Homo sapiens: one gene and its partners. The protein of the gene in region 1 interacts with the protein of each later gene in a biochemical or structural test. Each region holds a gene or a part of one and is shown in the gene's direction. Other genes may lie near its edges. The genes, in order: FMNL1, SRPK2, PRPF40A and RAC1.

Region 1 (3,568 bases):
GTTCCTTCCCACCCCAGGGCGGGGCCTACGGCAGGACTGACCCCTGCATAGTCCACCCCAAAGCTGTGTCAGGGCTGTGGCCTGGGAGCCCATACAGGAAGGGCAGGCTAGGCCTAGGCCAGGGGTTTTTAAAGTGGCCCGATGCTAGCTGGGCGTGGTGGTGCACACCCGTAGTCCCAGCTACCTGGGAGGCTGAGGTAGGAGGATCGCTTGAGCCCGGGAGTAGGAGGCTCCAGTGAACTATGTTCGTGCCACAGCACTCCAGCCTGGGCCACAGGGCAAGAAAAGAGAAAGATAAAAGAAAAGAAAAAAAAAGAAAGTGGCTTGGTGGACTGTTTGGGTTTATACCTTTGGTATTTCAGAGGCGTCTTAAGAAAGCCTGGGACCTCAGATCGGAGCTGAGAATGGGACACTGGGACGAGAACTGGTCATTTGCCCTGGGGTAGCTCTGGCTGGTTTTCTGTACACCCCATTCCATCTCCCCAGGAGCGGTTTCAAGTCAAGAATCCCCCCGCAGCCTACATCCAGAAGCTGAAGAGCTATGTGGATACTGGTGGGGTCAGCCGAAAGGTAGCAGCTGATTGGATGTCCAACCTGGGGGTACATGTCTCCCCTCTTTACTCTGTCCCTTTCCCCCACATTTTCCAAGCTCTGGGCAGCTGGAGTAACTGTGTGTACAGACTTTTCTATGTGCGTGTGTGGGTGCATGTATGAGTGTGTGTGTGTGTTTGTGTGTCTGTGTATTTATAGGGGAATGAGAGTGCCCTGGGTGTGCACTTTAGATATTCCTCTGTACATCCTGTGTGTGCTTACATGGACACATTCTGTGTACTTATACTGTGTGTATACACATGTGCAGCCCATATGTCCATACATAGGTGTGTGTGTATACTATGTGTGTACTTTGTCCACTTATGGATGTGTGTGTGTACCATTGAGTCCATATCTAGGAGAGAGAGAGAATGTGTGTGTGTGTGTGTCCATGTATGGATGTGTGGATATTCTATGTCTGTATTTAGAGTGCAGGTATATGGATGTTCATGTGCTGTGTGTGTGTGTGCGCACACACACTCTGCCTCTTTGTGTGTGTGCATGTGTATACCTTGTGTGCCCATGTATCGGGGGTGTGTGTACCCTGCTTGTCTATGTATGGGGGAGCACATGTAGCCTGTGAGTTCTTATTCTGCTGGGCAGGTGTGTGGAGGTGGTGGGGGAGGCTGAGCATGAAAGGCCACTTGTGCCAGTTGGAGGAGGGTGGGCGCTGCTGCCTGCTGCCTCAGGACTTGGTGGGCCTGTGGGAGGCCGGGCTCCACCCACCAGCCTTCCCTGTTCTCGGTCCCCAGTTTAAGAGGCGAGTTCAGGAGTCCACGCAGGTGCTACGGGAGCTGGAGACCTCCCTGAGGACCAACCACATTGGGTGAGTGAGGGCTCAGATCTTCCTCTCTGGGCCTAGGAAGGCTCTGCTTCCAGGCAGCTCCTGGAGCTTCCCCTTCCTACTCCCCCTGCCCCCTGCACAAGGCTGTGCTTGTGGACCACCTCCTGGAGGTGTCCAGGACAGCTTCCCCTCCCCTTCCTGCCCATGCTCTGACTGGCACCTTGAGGCATGGCTGGGCTGTGGGACCCACCTGAGTCTCCCAGAATCCTTTGGTATCATTGGGTCTTTGGGGGTTGAAAGGGCACCCCAGGGGTCCTTGCTGTCCCTGTTCTGTGCCCATGTGGGGCAGGACCTCCTTTCTGGCTGGAGCTCAGGGAGCCCTGTGCCCACAGGTGGGTGCAGGAGTTCCTCAATGAAGAGAACCGTGGCCTGGATGTGCTGCTCGAGTACCTGGCCTTTGCCCAGTGCTCTGTCACGTAAGCCCCCTGCTCCCAGCCCTCATGCCGCTCCTCAGAGCTTTGATCCCCGTCTCCCTGCATCTCACCCACTCCCCTGGCCAGTTTCAAGCCAGGCAGCCCGAGCCTACCCTGGAACCCTCCACTTGGCCTTGAGCGATGCTCCTTCCAGAAGGCCTGCCCCCGACAGGGAGGGGTGGCCTCTCTTCCACCACTATGTTCAGCACAGTGCCAAGAACACAGCCTCCTCCTCCTGCTCCTTAGTCTCACCTGCAGGTCTGTCTCTCCTTGCGTTTCCTCTGCCCCCTCTTAAGTGGCCCCTGCAGTGTTGGCCTCCAGCCCCATTGCATCCTGTCCCCAGGTATGACATGGAGAGCACAGACAACGGGGCTTCCAACTCAGAGAAAAACAAGCCCCTGGAGCAGTCTGTGGAAGACCTCAGCAAGGGTCCACCCTCCTCCGTGCCCAAAAGCCGCCACCTGACCATCAAGTATGTGGGCCACAAAGTGGGGTGGTGGGAGAACAGAGAATTCAGCCCCCACACTGCTGCATCTAGCCAGCCCACCCCGGGCCCTTGGGGTTGGCGAGAGGGGTAGCCATGCATTAGGGGTCCGAGTAAGGGACTCATACAGAGTTTGGGACACCAGTATGTTAAGAAGCCATCAGGGGTGGGGCTGGGTGCTGTGGCTCATGCCTGTAATCCCAGCACTTTGGGAGACTGAGGTGGGCAGATCATTTGAGGACATGAGTTTGAGACCAGCCTGGCTAACATGGTGAAACCCCATCTCTACTAAAATACAAAAATTAGCCGGGTGTGGTGGTGCACGCCTGTAATCCTAGCTACTCAGGAAGCTGAGGTGGGAGAATCGCTGGAGCCCAGGGGATGGAGGTTGCAGTGAGCTGAGATCGCACCACTGCACTGCAGCCTGGGTGACAGAGTGAGACCCTGTCTCAAAAAAAAAAAAAAAAAAAAAAAAGAAAAGAAAAGAAAAAAGAAGCCATCGGGGTGGGCACCTAGAAGTTGGAGTCTGGATGGGTCTGGGATAAGAAGGGAGTTTCTGGGTTGGTGGGACCCCTCTTGTATGCATCTAATCCCCTGTTTTCTCCCATGCGGCCTCCAGGTGTCCCCCTTCTCCCCGGTACGTAGCCATCTAGGGGCAGGTGCATGCCTGGCTGACTCCCTCCCAGGGTGGTGGTGGGTTAGGATGAGGTATTCAACTGATGTCCCTGGGTTCAGTGCTGTGGCTGGGTTCCTCCATCCTAACACGGGCATCTTGCTGGGAGGCAGGAAGCAGGCAGTAGATGGACCCTAGAGCATCTTGTGAATCCCTAGCTTCCTGCTTTGGGTCTAGAGGATTGATTGCATATTAAGCCTCAAACTTTCACAATATGTTATTTGTCCATTCATGCAATTATGCATTCAGCAAACATTTTTTTAACACTTAGTATGTATTAGGTATATGGCAGGTGCCCAGGAGACAGGTCACCCTGCCCTCAGGGGCCCACAGTCTAAGTGGGGGACAATTTAGTGTGACAGGCTGTCATGGAAGTGTGCCTGGGAGCTCTGAGAAGGGAGGTGGCCACCACTTGGGACATCAGGAAGGCTTCCCAGAAAAGGTGACGCTGGAACTGTGTCTTACAGACAGATACAGGCTTTACAGGCAGCCATGGGAACAGGGAAGAGCATTCCAGGCAGAAGGAACAGCATGAACAAAAACTCTGACATATTAGCACAATG
Region 2 (3,568 bases), on another chromosome or scaffold:
AAAGTGAAAATAACCCAAATGTTCATGAGGTGAAGGGATAAACACAATGTTGTATCTCCATACAGTGGAATACTGTTTGCCAATAAGAATAAGCGAAGTACTAATACATGCTGCACAAGAGTCAAACTTGAAAACATTATGCCAGTTACAAAAAAATACTTTATATGATTCCATTTATAGGAAATGTCCAGAATCAGCAAGTAGATTAGTGGTTGCTAAGGGTTAGAAGGGGTAGGAGAGAGATGGGAAGTGAATGCTGATGAATATGTTGTTTCTTTTTGGAGCAATGAAAATGTTGTCATTTAAATAGTGGTGGTAGTTGCCGTGTGTGGTGGCTCACGCCTGTAATCCCAGTACTTTGGGAGGTCGAGACAGGTGGATCACAAGGTCAGGAGTTCGAGACCACTGGCCAATATGGTAAAACCCCGTCTCTACTAAAAATACAAAAAAAATTAGCCAGGCGTGGTGGCATACGCCTGTAATCCCAGCTGCTTGGGAGGCTGAGGCAGGAGAATTGCTTGAACCTGGGAGGCGGAGGTTGCAGTGAGCCAAGATTGTGCCACTGCACTCCAGCCTGGGTGACAGAGCGAGACTCTGTCTCAAAAAATAAATACATAAAAAATTTAAAAAATAAATAGTAATGATAGTCGCACATCTAAAATCCATTGAATTGTATACCTAAAGGGGTCAATTGTATGATACATGAATTACTAGCCTACTGTTGATCAGAATCCTTAATGATCACATGACCAATTAACATGTATTTTGTATGTGTGTTATATAGCATATTTTTACAACAAAGTAAGCTAGAGAAAAGAATGTTAAGACAATCATAAAGAAGAGAAAATATACTTACTATTCATTAAGTGGATAGATCATATGAAGTAGATGATCATAAAGGTCTTCATCCTCATTATCTTCGCGTTGAGTAGGCTGAGGGGTTGGTCTTGCTGTCTCAGGAGTGGCAGAGGTGGAAGACAATCTGTGTATAAGGGAACCCATGCAGTTCAAACCTGTGTTGTTCAAGGTTCAACTGTATGTAGATGCATTTGCTTCCACGAGCATAAATAATCTCTGAAATTATACACACTGGTTGCTTATGGAAAGGAGAGCTGGATTCCAATGTGGGTAGGCATGGGAGGGAGATTTTTACTAAATATCCTTTTGTGTTTATCAAACTTTGTACCCTGGCATTGTATTACATGTTTTTCAAATAAATAAAAGTTATATAATGAGATATTAATAGCTTATCTTCTCTCTTGATTTTACTATATCCAGGTCCTTCAAGGGTTAGATTACTTACACAGTAAGTGCAAGATCATTCATACTGACATAAAGCCGGAAAATATCTTGATGTGTGTGGATGATGCATATGTGAGAAGAATGGCAGCTGAGGCCACTGAGTGGCAGAAAGCAGGTGCTCCTCCTCCTTCAGGGTCTGCAGGTGAGGGAGCTGAGCCAGCTTCATTTCAGTGTGGGGGCATTGGGAGCTTGCAAAGTTGCAGTTGTTGAAGGTATCTGAATCAAACGTTACACATAAGGAAGATTTTGGAAAAGTTTAATTGCTGGAAATAACTGCACCCTTGAAATGGAAAATGCCCCAGCTACATTATATTTTAATATTGGAAGTATTTACTTTTGTCCCCCTTTAAAAGGCCATTTAAATTTGTAGTTGCTGCTTCATCTATATTTGAACAGTTTTTTCTGTTGCCAGCTTCTCTGCAGAGGAGAACATAGTAACAGCTTTCCTGTAGCTGACCTTTAGTCATCAGAATATTTTTCTGGCTTCAATTTTGTGTACATAAATTCTTGTTGTCCATTTAGCATAGCTATGTCAACCTGAGTTGTATCAACAGATTTGGAGTTAGTTAGAAAAGGCCTGATGGTGGGGGAAGAAGATCAAGTGACCTGAGTATTGGGATATCTTTATTTCTGGGGCGGGGTCGGGGAGGTGGTGCAGTGAAGTGTGGACTGTGCTTCTCACTCTTCGACACCATGATCTGTGCCTTTGTGTGTTGTCAGGCAAGCATGGATACTAAAGGGCTGAGGCTCCTGGGACTGCCTGGGGCTCTCTTCACATCTCCTTTACTGCCATCAGGGTGTTGTTTAGATCATGGACCCAGCCTGTTAAGCTTTTGACCCTGGTGTAGGGGTTTAATCATGTGATTCCTAGACTATTTGCTGCATACCAACTGCAGTATTTGATTTAAATTATAGAAAGCTTGCAAAATAGATTCCAAATATCGATGTACATCTACATTGTTCATTTCATTATATTTTAAACAAATTTGGTTTAATGACTGTGATATGTATTCTTTTCCATTTTCTTAAGTGATCTGTTGGTGCTTGAGCTTGACTGTGTTTGAGATGTATTAGTATTTCATTTTAGATAAATAAGAGAAATGGCTCAGTATGAGTAACTTCTGCTGTGACTTCAGGAGTCACTCATTTGTTTCAGTGGCATAAACTTACTCTAGATCCTTGTGATTAAGAAGCTCTGATTAATAGTTTTTGAAGTTGGATAGCCATTAAAAGACAATAATTATTTCACTTTGCAATTCGAATGACCTACATGAAGGCATGTGTCTGTTTTCTGCTAAATACAGATTTTGTTTGATTTTATTTTAGTGAGTACGGCTCCACAGCAGAAACCTGTAAGTACTTACGCATATTACTTTATATGCACCATGTTAAAAGAGACCGTTTATTATTGAGTTGTTCAAATTATAAAAAAGTTGTGTATTTAAAGGGTAGACACATTTATAAAAGCTGTGTATCCTCAAATAGGTAAGACTTAATGTCTTGTTAATTTTTTTTTTTTTTTTTTTTGAAAACTGAGTTTCACTCTGTTGCTCAGGCTGGAGTGCAAGTGGTGCGATCTCGGCTCACTGCAACCTCCCCCTCCCTGGTTCAAACGATTCTTGTGCCTCAGCCTCCCGAGTAGCTGGGATTACAGGCACCTGCCACCGCACCCAACTAATTTTTGTATTTTTAGTAGAGAGGGGTTTCACCATGTTGGCCAGACTGGTCTCGAACTCTTAACCTCAAGTTATCTGCCTGCCTCGGCCTCCCAAATTTCTGGGATTACAGGTTTGAACCACCACGCCCAGCCTGTCTTGTTAAGTTTTAATGATCTGTGCAGAGTTGGGATAGTTAGAGCCTTTCAAAAATTGTCTTCTTTATGCATTTTCTGGACTATGGTGGCCAAGTTTAGTGAAATGTGAGGTGATGGAGTTGAAGTATTTTTATTTCAAAACCACTTTACATTATTTCTGATTGGCTGCTAAGTTACCTGTTTTTCTGAAGCTGTTGTTCTAATTTTTTCCATGCGGATGTTAAATAAGAAAGAGACTGATCTATTTTGTGGTCCTGTCAAAACACTATGTCCTTATTAGATACTGGGTGTGGTGACTCACGCCTGTAATCCCTGCACTTTGGGAGGCTGAGGCCACTAGATCACTTGAAGTCAGGAATTCAAGACCAGCCTGGCCAACATGGTGAAATCCTGTCTCTACCAAAAATGCAAAAACTAGCTGAGTGTGCTGGTGGACGTCTGTAATCCCGGCTA
Region 3 (3,568 bases), on another chromosome or scaffold:
TCTTGTTTGAAGAGGAGTGAGTGCAGTTGTAAGTGCCTGATGTTACTTTGGGACAGCTCTATCCAATAAAAATGTGAATGCCACAAATGCGATTTTAATTTCCTATTTATTTTAGTAATTTAACCCAATATAACCAGATATTATTTTAACACATCAATATTTTTAAAAATTGCTAATATTTGTGGTATTAAATCTTCAAGATCATTGTGTATTTTGTACTTAACAGCACATCACAACTCAGACTAGCTACATTTCATGTACCGAGAAGCTACGTTTGGTCAGTGGCTACCTTATTGAACAGTGCAGGTATAGGAATTGTGGGAACAGAATATAGGGTTACAGTTTCTTTTAGGCACATTTGTGTATAGCAGCGGTCCCCAACCTTTTTGGCACCAGGGACCGGTTTAGTGGAAGACAGTTTTTCTTGGTGGGGTGGGGTGGGGAGTTGGTATCATCAGGCATTAGATTCTCATAAGGACCACACAACCTAGATTCCTGGCATGCTCAGTTCACAATACGGTTTGCAGTCCTATGAGAATCTGATGCCGCCACTGATCTGACAGGAGGTGGAGCTGGGGCGGTAATGCTTGTTCCACCACTCACTTCTTGCTGTGTGGCTTGGTTCCGGTTCCGTGGCTGGGGGTTGGGATCCCCTGGTGTATAGGATTAAACTCCCTGAGGATTGGGTTGGAAGCAGGAAGTGTGGAAATTGAAACTAGATATGGGTTTGAATCCTAGGTCTCCAAACTACTTTGGGAAAATTATACATCCTCCTCTTAAGGCCCCTTGTTTTTTAAAAGTAAATAAAAATACCTAGAACACATTAGGCACTATTTTTAAAGACAGAAAGTATATATTTAAGGAAACATGCATATACATTCTTTAGCCTCATCATTTGAGGTAGATATCCAGTAATTTAAGTTAACTTTTACCTTTTTTTTTTTAAAGCTAAAAATTAGGTTCTATCTTAAAGGGTAGGAAATAGAACCTTAGGAAGATAATGTGCAGTTTCAAAAGTTATTTTCTCTAAAGGACAAAATATTTTTTTGCCTAGAGGCAGTTGTTACTTTGCCCAAATAGCAAATATTCTTTGTGCCCAAACAGGTTTGGGATAACATTGGTAGAAGAGTTTTAACTATGTCAAAGTTTTTGTGTGTTTTCATGTTAGACGCTTATTTCTCATGTACTCGAGATGACTTTCCAAATATAATTTTTCTCCCTAGATATTTTTAGATGAATTACATGAACATGGACAACTGCATTCTATGTCATCTTGGATGGAATTGTATCCAACTATTAGTTCTGATATTAGATTCACTAATATGCTTGGTCAGCCTGGTAAGATTATTTTCTTTCCTAATTTACCGTTATGGTAGTAGTTGAAATGGGCCAAATGCAAAGGTGATTGTGTTGGGGGAAAGGGTGCTTTATTTTTGTTTTTTAAACAACAAAGTAATTGCAGCTCTTTGGTTAGAGCTAGCTTTTGACTTCTTTAGTTTTTTCATTAGGATCAACTGCACTTGATCTTTTCAAGTTTTATGTTGAGGATCTTAAAGCACGTTATCATGACGAGAAGAAGATAATAAAAGACATTCTAAAGGTAAATATATTTATTCTTACCTTTTAACCAATAGTATATCTTAAAAGTTAGTACTGTATTCCTTTGATTTATGCATTATTAATGTTAAGATTTCTTTTTTTTAGGATAAAGGATTTGTAGTTGAAGTAAACACTACTTTTGAAGATTTTGTGGCGATAATCAGTTCAACTAAAAGATCAACTACATTAGATGCTGGAAATATCAAATTGGCTTTCAATAGTGTAAGTTATGTTTTCTGTTGTAAGTAACTAGTTTAGTAGTATAGTTTTTAATTTATTCAGATAAAAGCAGCTAAGTTGCAGAGTGTTGGAATAAGGGAATATGAATAGAATTTTACAGAGTGGTAGCCAGTCTTTCAGGTAAGGTAAAACAAAAAACTTTATTTAGATGATGGATTGATATTAAACTTCCTTTGCTCAAATTAACTGGTATTATACATAAAATGGCCATTATAAATCAGGCCTTGGGCCACACATAAAGTACACTAACGATAGCTGATGAGCTTAAAAAAAAAATTGCAAAAAATCCTTATAGTGTTTTAAGAAAGTTTACAAATTTGTGTTGGGCCACATTCAAAGCGGTCCTGGGCCACAGGTTGGACAAGCTCGTTTTAAACAATGCGTGATTCCTAAATTAACAATAAATTATTTCAGCTAATAGTTATGATACTATTATAACTGATTAAATATGATTTTCTTAATAGTTACTAGAAAAGGCAGAAGCCCGTGAACGTGAAAGAGAAAAAGAAGAGGCTCGGAAGATGAAACGAAAAGAATCTGCATTTAAGAGTATGTTAAAACAAGCTGCTCCTCCGATAGAATTGGATGCTGTCTGGGAAGATGTATGTATACTTGTTATTTTTTTCTAATGGAATTCTTTTCTTTACAGTTGAGAAATTTAAAATATTTTTATTTTTCATTTTATAGCCACAAAAATAAGCTAAATTTATTTGTAGAATATATTAAATATATTTAGAATATAATAAAAGCATTAAATCAGCTGTTGACTCTGTTTAGGAATATTTGTAAAGAATGGTTTGGACTTTTGAAGGGAGGAAATAATGGACTTTAAGGGGACTGATTCATCACAGTTTTCACTTGCTGTTATGATTTATTTTAGATGTATCGTTGTACTTTTCTTGGTATTCATATATTTATTTTGTATCTGAATTTTTCAGATCCGTGAGAGATTTGTAAAAGAGCCAGCATTTGAGGACATAACTCTAGAATCTGAAAGAAAACGAATATTTAAAGATTTTATGCATGTGCTTGAGGTAATTTTAGAATTCTCATATACAAAATATATAAAATATAAACAAATTGAAGAACTTAGAATGATGAAAGTATGTTGCTTAATATTCACTGCTTTTATACAAATGTACTTACCTGGATGGTTAGAGAATGGTTTTTTTCCTATAAAAACTGCTTTTAAGTAAAAGAAACTATTAAGTTTCCATGGGAATATAAAGATTTGTATGTGAAGACTGTTTTGTATTTTTAGAAAGTTTTAGAAATTGAGCAGTTTGGCAGCCACATGGATTGATTGACTAATAAAGAAAACTTGAAATTTTTCTTGTAAAGCAGATAGAAGACAGCTTTTAGGCACATTTGAGGTATTATACCACATTAGCTGTGTAGAAAAGAAAGTTTCTGGAAAGTAATGGAATAAATGGTAAGTTTTTGTTAAAATAAGCAATGAAACAATAACATCTCAGGTCACTTTAATAGGTAAGGTTCACTGGGCACGGTGGCTCACGCCTGTAAAACAAGCACTTTGGGAGGCCAAGGTGTGTGCTGATCACCTGAGGTCAGGAGTTTGAAACCAGCCTGGCCAACATGGCGAAATCCTGTCTCTACTAAAAATACAAAAAAATTATCAGGGAGTGGTGGCGGGCACCTGTAATCCCAGCCACTCAGGAGGCTGAGGCAAGAGAATTGCTTGAACCCAGGAGGCGGAGGTTGCAGTGAG
Region 4 (3,568 bases), on another chromosome or scaffold:
GTTTTAATTGGCCTTTTCTGATAAGTCATCAGTTGGTTACATGTCCGCATTGAGGTGTAGGGCTTTGGAATTGAAACTTGGGTGTGTGTGTTGAAGGGGGAATGGGAGGGTGGAATTGGCTATTGAATTGCTTACTCCCTATAGGCAGCAGAATTGGGTGGAGACAGGAAAGTGCTGCTCTGGTGATGGGTTACCCGGGAGCGCACGTAGCTGAGCCTCATAATGCACCATCCTGCAGCTGCTGTGAGTCCTCCCTGTGCAGGCTGGGGAGGTGTCGCCTCCTCCCCACCTGTGTTCACCTCCTCAGGCACAACACACACCCAGGTGCTCTCTGAAGTGTCGTACCCATGTTTTTGTTGTTGTTGTTGTTGTTTTCCTTTTTTTTTTTTTTTTTTGGAGTTAGTCTCTCTCTCTTGCCCAGGATGGAGTGCTGTGATGCGATCTCAGCTCACTGCAGCGTCTGCCTCCTGGGTTCAAGTGATTCTCTGCCTCAGCCTCCCAGGTAGCTGTGATTACAGGCATACACCACCACACCTGGCTAATTTTTGTTTCTTTAGTAGAGACGGGTTTCACCATGTTGGCCAGGTTGGTCTCAAACTCCTGACCTCAGGTGATCTGCCCACTTCAGCCTCCCAAAGTGCTGGGATTACAGGCGTGAGCCACGGCACCCATTTTTTACTGTAAGTGGAATCATGCTGTCCCTGTTGTCCTAAATTTATGGGGGAGATTTTCCTTATCTACATATGTAGATAAAGGTTTAATCATTAATGATTAATGATTTTGAAGTACTATAACTGATTTAACCCACTGGTCACTTGGACTCTTGGTGTTAACAAACATTGCTGGGTTCAGTGTTGTCCCTTATGTCTTTGTGTACACTTGATAGATTATTAGAAGCAAAATCGTGCCAAATCAAAAGACAATGGATGTTTTAAATTTTGGTAGATACAGCTGGGCGTGATTGCTCACGCCTGTAATCCCAGCACTTTGGGAGGCCAAGACGGAAGGATCACTTGAGGTCAGGAGTTCGAGACCAACCTGGCCAACATGTTAAAACCCCCACCTCTGCTAAAAATACAGTAGTTAGCCGGGTGTGGTGGTGCACTCCTGTAGTCCCAGCTACTCAGGAGGCTGAGGCATGAGAATTGCTTGAACCCGGGAAGCAGAGGTTGCAGTGAGCCAAGATTGTGCCACTGCACTTCAGCCTGGGTAACAGAGTGAGACTCTGTCTCCCAAAAAAAAAAAAAAATTAAAAAATTATTTTTTGGTAGATAACTACCAAATTGCTGTCTATAAAGCTGTCACTTTGCTGGCCTTGACTTAAGTGGCCTCTTAGTACACACTGCCATTAACGTGGGTTGAAGTTATCTAACCGTTTTCATTTCCAATCACAGATGTGGTTAAAATCTTTTGAATTTTTTTTTTTTTTAATTAAAAAAGTTTGCTCACGCCTGTAATCCCAGCACTTGGGGAGGCTGAGCTGGGCGGATCACTGAGGTAAGGAGTTTGAGACCAACTTGGCCAAGATGGTGAAACCCTGTCTCTACTAAAAATACAAAAATTAGCTGGGCATGGTGGCACATGACTATAATCCCAGCTATTCGGGAGGCTGAGGCAGGAGGATTGCTTGAACCTGGGAGGTGGAGGTTGCAGTGAGCCAAGATTGTGCCTCTGCACTCCAGCCTGGGCAACAGAACAAGACATTGTCTCCAAAAAAGAAAAAAAAAATATGTGTTTTTGTAGAGCTATGTTTTGCTATATTGCCCAGGCTGGTCTTGAAGACCTGGCCTCAGGTGATTCTCCACCTTGGTCTCCCGAAGTGTTGGGATTACAGGCGTGAGCCACCACACCTGGCTCTTTTGAATGTTTACTGTACATTTTTAGTCTCTTGTGAATTGTCTGTTTAAATCTTTTGTATTTTTCTACTGAAATTTTTTCTTACTGATGGAACATTTCCTTCCTTCCTTCCCTCCCTCCCTCTCTCCCTCCCTTCCTCCCTTCCTTTCTTCCCTCCCTCCTCCTCTCCCTCCCTCTCTCCCTCCTTCCCTCCTCTCCTACTCCTTCCCTCCTTCCCTCCTTCCTTCTCCTTTCTTTTCCCCTCCCTCCCTTGCTCCCTCCCTCCCTCCCTTTTTTTTTTTTTTTTTTTTTGAGATGGGGTCTTGCAGTATTGCCCAGGCCGGACTTGAAGTACTGGTCCTTCCACCTCAGCCTATTGAGTAGCATGCTCCACTGCACGTAGCCTGATGGAACGTTTTGTAAATAATCCTCAGTCTGTCATTTGTCTTTGTACTTCATTATGGTGTCTTCTGCCATATAGAAATTTAGCATTTAATGTAAATAATACCACCTTACCCGGGCACGGTGGCTCACACCTGTAATTCCAGCACTTTGGGAAGCTGAGGTGGGCGCATTATGAGGTCAGGAGATCAAGACCAGCCTGATCAACATGGTGAAACCCCATCTCTACTAAAAATACAAAAATTAACCGGGCATGGTGGCGTGCACCTGTAATCCCAGCTCCTCAGGAGGCTGAGGCAGGAGAATCACTTGAACCCAGGAGGTGGAGGTTGCAGTGAGCCGAGATCGCACCACTGCACTCCAGCCTGGGTGACAGTGAGATTCTGTCTCAAAAAAAAAATAATAATAATAATGATAATACCACCTCTCCCTCAGAATTGTATGTTGTACTTAGAAAGGCCTTTCCTACTTAAATAATGCAAAAGTATGCTCTAGTATTTTTTTCTAGGATTTTTGTGGCTAAAATTTTTATCTTTAATTCATTTAGGACTTATTTTTGGTATAGAATGAGGCAAGGACCTGATTCTTTTTCCCTTATGGGGAAAAAAAGTCACAATACTATTTATCCAATAATTTTTTTCTTATGGAAATATAATTAACATGTCCATCACCATCACACCTTTTCTTTCTTCTTCTTCTTTTTTCTTGAGACCGAGTTTCGCACTTGTTGCCCAGGCCGGAGTGCAGTGGCGCAACTTGGCCCACTGCAACCTCTGCTTCCCGGGTTCAAGCGATTCTCTTGCCTCAGCCTCCCAAGTAGCTGGGACTACAGGTGCCTGTCACCACGCCCTGGCTAATTTTTGCATTTTTAGTAGACACAAAGTTTCGTCATGTTGGCCAGGCTGGTCTCGAACTCTTGACCTCAGGTGATCCGCCCACCTCGGCCTCCCAAAGTGCTGGGATTACAGGCGTGAGCCACCGTGCCCAGCCTCTGCTTTTTATTATATTTTTCCTTTTTTTTTTTTTCTTTTTTGCCTTCCTGTGCAGAGGAAACACTATTTTCTTCTAAAGCTTGGTTTCTGCTGACCAGTAGCAATTTTTAACATCAGTCTGATTTCCCTCTGTCAGCCTATAGGCTTTGCTGGGTTATCTCTCCTGACTAATTTGTGTAGCAACTTCACATGAATTTAAACATTTGTATCATCAGTTAACACTCACTTTGAAAATGTTATTGGGAGGCTTGTTAAGTCAGGTGTATTTTGTGTGACTGCTCTACACTCAGGCCTTCTGGAAACCCTGCAGAGGGTAGCTCTAGTGGCCAGCTAGCTCT

The links.
Region 2: of the proteins of FMNL1 (region 1) and SRPK2, one has a biochemical effect on the other in vitro, tested with the Homo sapiens proteins (one large-scale study listed by BioGRID).
Region 3: the proteins of FMNL1 (region 1) and PRPF40A form a complex in vitro, tested with the Homo sapiens proteins (one study listed by BioGRID).
Region 4: the proteins of FMNL1 (region 1) and RAC1 form a complex in vitro, tested with the Homo sapiens proteins (one study listed by BioGRID).

What each region holds. Positions count from the first base shown.
Region 1 is NC_000017.11:45,231,881-45,235,448, forward strand, and holds part of FMNL1 (formin-like protein 1), read left to right. Parts: intron 1-486; coding exon 487-600; intron 601-1,343; coding exon 1,344-1,417; intron 1,418-1,767; coding exon 1,768-1,851; intron 1,852-2,191; coding exon 2,192-2,320; intron 2,321-3,568. UniProt on the Homo sapiens protein: May play a role in the control of cell motility and survival of macrophages. Plays a role in the regulation of cell morphology and cytoskeletal organization. Required in the cortical actin filament dynamics and cell shape.
Region 2 is NC_000007.14:105,144,369-105,147,936, reverse strand, and holds part of SRPK2 (SRSF protein kinase 2), read left to right. Parts: intron 1-1,278; coding exon 1,279-1,444; intron 1,445-2,628; coding exon 2,629-2,654; intron 2,655-3,568. UniProt on the Homo sapiens protein: Serine/arginine-rich protein-specific kinase which specifically phosphorylates its substrates at serine residues located in regions rich in arginine/serine dipeptides, known as RS domains and is involved in the phosphorylation of SR splicing factors and the regulation of splicing.
Region 3 is NC_000002.12:152,661,908-152,665,475, reverse strand, and holds part of PRPF40A (pre-mRNA-processing factor 40 homolog A), read left to right. Parts: intron 1-1,223; coding exon 1,224-1,338; intron 1,339-1,496; coding exon of another isoform or gene 1,497-1,508; coding exon 1,509-1,600; intron 1,601-1,704; coding exon 1,705-1,821; intron 1,822-2,303; coding exon 2,304-2,441; intron 2,442-2,777; coding exon 2,778-2,873; intron 2,874-3,568.
Region 4 is NC_000007.14:6,387,970-6,391,537, forward strand, and holds part of RAC1 (ras-related C3 botulinum toxin substrate 1), read left to right. Parts: intron 1-3,568. UniProt on the Homo sapiens protein: Plasma membrane-associated small GTPase which cycles between active GTP-bound and inactive GDP-bound states.